2 separate regions of the Homo sapiens genome follow, and region 1 is linked to region 2. The links come from fine-mapping of genetic effects on gene expression. A gene starts in region 2. The other region holds a variant in brackets. All regions are shown on one strand. Distances are between the middles of the regions. Region 1 overlaps DOCK3 (dedicator of cytokinesis 3). Region 2 holds the start of ABHD14B (abhydrolase domain containing 14B).

The links.
Region 1: its variant is fine-mapped to the expression of ABHD14B in whole blood (TOPMed, PIP 0.98).

The regions. Positions count from the first base shown.
Region 1 is chr3:51,095,428-51,098,334 of GRCh38, forward strand. All of the region lies in intron 9 of DOCK3 (dedicator of cytokinesis 3), which reads left to right. Among named protein-coding and RNA genes, the nearest start is that of MANF, 290 kb to the right of the region's middle. The variant C/T (reference allele first, on the strand shown) is at 1,450.
Region 2 is chr3:51,972,350-51,975,256 of GRCh38, forward strand. ABHD14B (abhydrolase domain containing 14B) reads right to left here and starts at 1,700. Exons shown (of 4, transcript NM_001146314.2): 1 at 1,616-1,700. ABHD14A-ACY1 (ABHD14A-ACY1 readthrough) reads left to right here and starts at 2,715. Exons shown (of 17, transcript NM_001316331.2): 1 at 2,715-2,855. It overlaps ABHD14A (abhydrolase domain containing 14A), which reads left to right and starts at 2,715. Exons shown (of 5, transcript NM_015407.5): 1 at 2,715-2,855. The coding sequence starts at 2,787. RefSeq lists enhancers at 889-1,825, 1,859-2,038 and silencers at 1,269-1,418, 1,639-1,808, 2,639-2,907.

The sequences.
Region 1 (2,907 bases), 880 kb before region 2:
TGGCTGGATATAAAATTCTGGGTTGAAAATTCTTTAAGAATGTTGACTAGAGCTTCAACCACAGCCCTCCTTGGGGTATTAAAAAAGCCTGGAACTGACAACACCAGAATCCAGAATCTCCCAGTTTCTTAATACCAACTTGATGGTGGAATTTGCATTGTCTAGTGCAAAATGCAGCCCTTTTAACATTTACATTTGATCTTTATCTTCTGGTTATACAGATTACTTTATCTAATTTTACCTGTTATTTGTTTTAAAGCTTTTCACCCCATCTTACCCAACTTTTAGTGGAGAAAGGTAATACTCAAAAGCTCTCTCAATTCTTATAACAGCATATAAAACATTTCATGCTCATTAAACTAACACCCTTCATTCTCTCATTCTTTTCAAATGTCAATCCTTAAGTGACATAAATAAGGTTAGCAAAAAAAAAAAAAAAAAAAAAAAAAGAATGTTGACTATTGGCCCCCATGCTCTCTGGCAAAAAAAAAAAAAAAAGAATGTTGACTATTGGCCCCCACGCTCTCTGGCTTGTAAAGCTTCTGCAGAGAGATCCACTGTTAGTCTGATGGGCTTCCCTTTGTGGGTAACCCGACCTTTTCCTCTGGTTGCCTTTAACATTTTTTTCTTCATCTCAACCTTGGTGAATCTGACGATTATGTGTCTTGGGGTTGCTCTTGTGTCTTGGGGTTGCTCTTCTCAAGGAGTATCTTTGTGGTGTTCTCTATATTTCCTGAATTTGAATGTTGGCCTTTCTTACTAGGTTGGGGAAGTTCTCCTGCATAATATCCTGAAGAGTGTTTTCCAACTTGGTTCCATTCTCCCCGTCACTTTCAGGTACACCAATCAAACATAGGTTTGGTTTTTTCACATAGTCCCATATTTCTTGGAGGCTTTTGTTCATTCCTTTTCTTTTCTTTTTTTTTTCTCTAATCTTTTCTTCACACTTTATTTCATTAAGTTGATCTTCAGTCTCTGATATCCTTTCTTCCACTTGATCAATTCGGCTATTGATACTTGTGTATGCTTCACGAAGTGAAGCTGTGCTGTGTTTTTCTGCCCCATCAGGTCATTTATGTTCTTCTCTAAACTGGTTATTGTAGTTAGCAATTCCTCTAATCTTTTTCAAGGTTCTTAGCTTCCTTGCATTGGGTTAGAACATGCTCCTTTAGCTTGGAGGAGTTTGTTATTACCCACCTTCTGAAGCCTACTTCTGTCAATTCACCAAACTCATTCTCTATCCAGTTTTGTTGCCTTGCTGGTGAGGAGTTGTGATCCTTTGGAGAAGAGGCGTTCCGGTTTTTGGAATTTTCAGCCTTTTTGCACTGGGTTTTCCTCATCTTCGTGGATTTATCTACCTTTGATCTTTGATGTTGGTGACCTCCGGATAGGGTTTCTGTGTGGACATCCTTTTTGTTGACGTTGATGCTATTTCTTTCTGTTTGTTAG[C/T]TTTCCAGGTCTGCTGGAGTTTGCAGGAGGTCCTTTCTAGACCCTGTTTGCCTGGGTATCACCAGCGGAAGCTGCAGAACAGCAATGTTCCTTCCTCTGGAAGCTTCGTCCCAGAGGGGCACCCACCAGATGCCAGCCAGAGCTCTCCTGTATGAGGTGTCTGTCGACCCCTGCTGGGAGGTGTCTCCCAGTCAGGAGGCACAGGGATCAGGGACCCACTTGAGGAGACAGTCTGTCCCTCAGCAGAGCTCAAGCGCTGTGTTGGGAGATCCGTTGCTGTCTTCAGATTCACAGGCAGGAGCATTTAAGTCTGCTGAAGCTGTGCCCACAGCCACCCCTTCCCCCAGGTGCTCTGTCCCAGGGAGATGGGAGTTTGTTCTGTAAGGCCCTGACTGGGGTTGCTGAGTTTCTTTCATAGATGCCCTTCCCAGAGTGGAGGAATCTAGAGAGGCAGTCTGGCTACAGAGGCTTTGAGGAGCGCAGTGGGCTCCACCCAGTTCGAACTTCCAGGTGGCTTTGTTTACATTGTGACAGGAAAACTGTCTACTCAAGCCTCAGTAATGGTGGCTGGCCCTCCCCTTACCAAGCTCCAGCATCCCAGGTTGAATTCAGAGTGCTCTGCTGGTAGCGAGAATTTCAAGTCTGTGAATCTTAGCTTCCAGGGCTCCATGGGGGTGGGATCTGCTGAGCTAGACCACTTGGCTCCCTGGCTTCAGTCCCCTTTCCAGGAGAGTGAACGGTTCTGTCTCACCTCACTGGCGCTCCAGGCGCCACTGGGGTATGAAAATAAAACTCCTGCAGCTAGCTTGGTGTCTGCCCAAACGGCCGCCTAGTTTTGTGCTTGAAATCCAGGGCCCTGGTGGCGTAGGCACCTGAGGGAATCTCCTGGTCTATGAGTTGCGAAGACCGTGGGGAAAGCGTAGTATCTGGGCCAGAGTGCACTGTCCCTCATGGCACAGTCCCTCACGGCTTTCCTTGGCTAGGGGAGGGAGTTCCCTGACTCCTTGTGCTTCCCTGGTGAGCCAATGCCCAACCCTGCTTCAGCTCACCCTCCATGGGCTATACCCACTGTCTAACCAGCCCCAATGAGATGAGCTGGGTACCTCAATTGGAAATGCAGAAATCATCTGCCTTCTGCGTTGATCTCGCTGGGAGCTGCAGACCAGATCTGTTCCTATTTGACCATCTTGCCAGCCACCGATCGGAGTTTTGCTCTTTTGCCCAGACTGGAGTGCAGTGATGCGATCTCAGCTCACTGTAACATCCGCCTTCCGGTTTCAAGCTGTTCTCCTGCCTCAGCCTCCCGAGCAGCTGGGATTACAGGTGCCCACCACCATGCCCATCTAATTTTTGTATTTTTATTAGAAATGGGGTTTCACCATGTTTGCCAGGCTAATCTTGAACTCCTGACCTCGTGATCTGCCTGCCTTGGCCTCCCAAAATGTTGGGATTACAGGT
Region 2 (2,907 bases):
ACCTGAGGTCAGGAGTTCGAGATCTCCCTGATGAACATGCAGAAAGAAACCCCATCTCTACTCAAAATACAAAATTAGCCAGCTGTGGTGGCACACGCCTGTAATCCCAACTACTTGGGAAGCTAAGGCAGTAGAATTGCTTGCACCCAGGAGGCAGAGGTTGCAGTGAGCCGAGAACGCGCCATTGCACTCCAGACTGGGCAACAAGAGAAAAACTCCATCTCAAAAAAACAAAAAACAGAAAAATTATCAGTGGGGGTGCCTGCTGTAAAACCTCAATATGTGGTGGGGCTCCATTACAATTACTGTTCTTATTCTCATCGTTATTATCCTTTTCTATAAATGGGGATAATTCAATAGTACTAGCTCATAGGTGGTTGATAGGATTAAATAAGGCCATGCATGTACCATGCCTAGCACGTAGTAAGGGCTCAGTGCTCAATCAACGGTAAGTTACAGGTCATGAGTTGTCAATGCAGGCCAGAGGGAGCCCAAATTGGGGTAAAAAGCCCATTTTATTTTATTTTATTCTATTTATTTATTTTGGGACAGAGTTTCACTCTTGTTGCCCAGAATGGAGTGCAGTGGCATGATCTCGGCTCACTGCAACCTCCACCTCCTGGGTTCAAGCGATTCTCCTGCCTCAGCCTCCCGAGTAGCTGGGTTTACAGGCGTGCGTCACCATGCCTGGCTAATTTTTTTTTTTTTTTTTTTGAGACGGAGTCTCGCTCTGTCGCCCAGGCTGGAGTGCAATGGCACATCTCCGCTCACTGCAAGCTCCGCCTCCCGGGTTCACGCCATTCTCCTGCCTCAGCCTCCCGGGTAGCTGGGACTACAGGCACGCGCCACCACGCCCGGCTAATTTTTTGTTTTTTTTTTTTTAGTACAGACGGGGTTTCGCCGTGTTAGCCAGGGTGGTCTCGATCTCCTGACCTCGTGATCCGCCCGCCTCAGCCTCCCAAAGTGCTGGGATTACAGGCGTGAGCCACCGTGCACGGCCTAATTTTTATATTTTTAGTAGAAACGGGGTTTCATCATGTTGGCCGAGCTGGTCCGGAACTCCTGACCTCAAGTGATCCACCCACCTTGGCCTCCCAAAGTGCTGGGATTACAGGCGTGAGCCACCGCGCCGGAACTAAAAGCCCATTTTCTTCGGTTTTTTTTTTTTTCTTTTTTTTTTTTTTAAGAGAAGATGTCTCGCTCTGTCGTCCAGGCTGGAGTGCAGTGGCGCAATCATGGATCACTGCAGCCTTGACCTTCCTGGGCTCAAGTGATCCTCCCGGCTCACCCCCAGTAGCTGGAACCACAGGCGCGCTTCCACACCGGAAAGCCCATTTTCTAGAGGCGGAAACCGAAGCGCCCAGTGGGAAAGGCGACCCGCCGGGGATGCGGGGTGCTCAACGCGCTGCCACCTGGGGCCCAACGCGTTGACCTCGCGGTCAGGTTGCTTCCGCGGACTACGGTTCTGGCTCGCTAGCTCTGGAAGGGAGCACCGGGAGGGAATGGTGGCAACTCCCAAGGAGGGGACCCAGGGATCCGAGAAAGGAAGACTTGGGGTAGGTGGGGTTGGATTTTGACTGGAGAGAAGAAAGGGTCAGGAGTGCAGGGCGGGTACCTGGGGAGCTGCGTGGACTCGCGCAGACGGGAAGCAGGCGCGTGCTGGCGGTGACCTGGGGCCGGAGGAGGAACGCTGGGAAGAGGCCGGGCCCCATCCAGCGGGGGCGGGGACTGGGCCGTGCTCCGGGGCGCCCTCTTGTGGCCACAAGCTCGCAGCGTCCATAGACTCCGCTAAACTCGTTCTCACAGCGGCGTCAGTTTCCCAAAGCCTCTCGGTCTCACATGCCCCAAACGCGGTGCTGAGCACGGTTTCGAACTCTTCAGCGACCTGCCCCACATGGACATGGAGCAGTCTGAGGAGGAAAGTTCCTTCGGGATCGCATCCTTGCTGCTGTCTTCCTGCTCCCCATCCCCCTTATCCCCAGCTTGAACTGCCCAGGGCAACTTGTTGGCCTGGCACGGAGTTGAGGCCCGACAGGTTTGAGTGCGAGGCTCCGCCAGTGTCCAGCCAAGTGGCCTTGATCGTTTTCCCAATGCCCCCGAGCCTGTTTCCTGCCAGTAGAGCGGGTCAGATGTTGCCAACCTCTGCAGAGTAGCAATAAGCAGTAAACGCCACGCTCTGCACAGCCTCCCAGTGCTGGGCCTGGTCGCCACGCGGAGCCTTGGGCTGGGACAGGCCAGACGTTGGTAACACATCGCCAACCAGGGCAGGCGCCATGAGTAGACGTGAACGAGCCCAGGGCCAGCCCAGGCTCTGACCGTGGGTGTGCGTCGGGGAGGGGGTGGGGAGGAGTGGGTAGGAGTCAGGAAAGTGGGTCGGCCAAGACCTGGAGCTGCTGCATAACAATATCTGGCATTTACACAACGAGGCCTCTGCTCCGGACACTGTTCTGAGGCTTGACCCGTCCTTAAGAACCTAGGACAACCCTGTGCGGTGGGTTTTATCCTTAACTCCATTATACAGGCCAGAGAACTGAGCCAGGGTGGAGATGTTCCACTGAGAAGAAGCCACATGGCTCTCCGCCGGCTCTCAAGCCAAAAACAGTTCCGAAAATCTGGGCGGGGAGCGGGCCAGAGAGCGCTGGGGCTCTGCCCCCAGCACCCCCTCCACGCAGACGACTCGGTAACTGGGTTGCAGGCCCGCGGCTGCGGAGTGCGCAGGCGCGCCGAGATGGCCGCGCTCCTGGCCGCCTAGAGCCGGAGCGGCCCGCGGAGCTGCGGAGGCAGCCATGGTCGGGGCGCTGTGCGGCTGCTGGTTCCGCCTGGGCGGGGCCCGCCCGCTCATCCCGTTGGGCCCGGTGAGTCTCCCGGGGGAGGGAGGCCGGCCGGTGGCCCAGGGGAGGGCCGTCT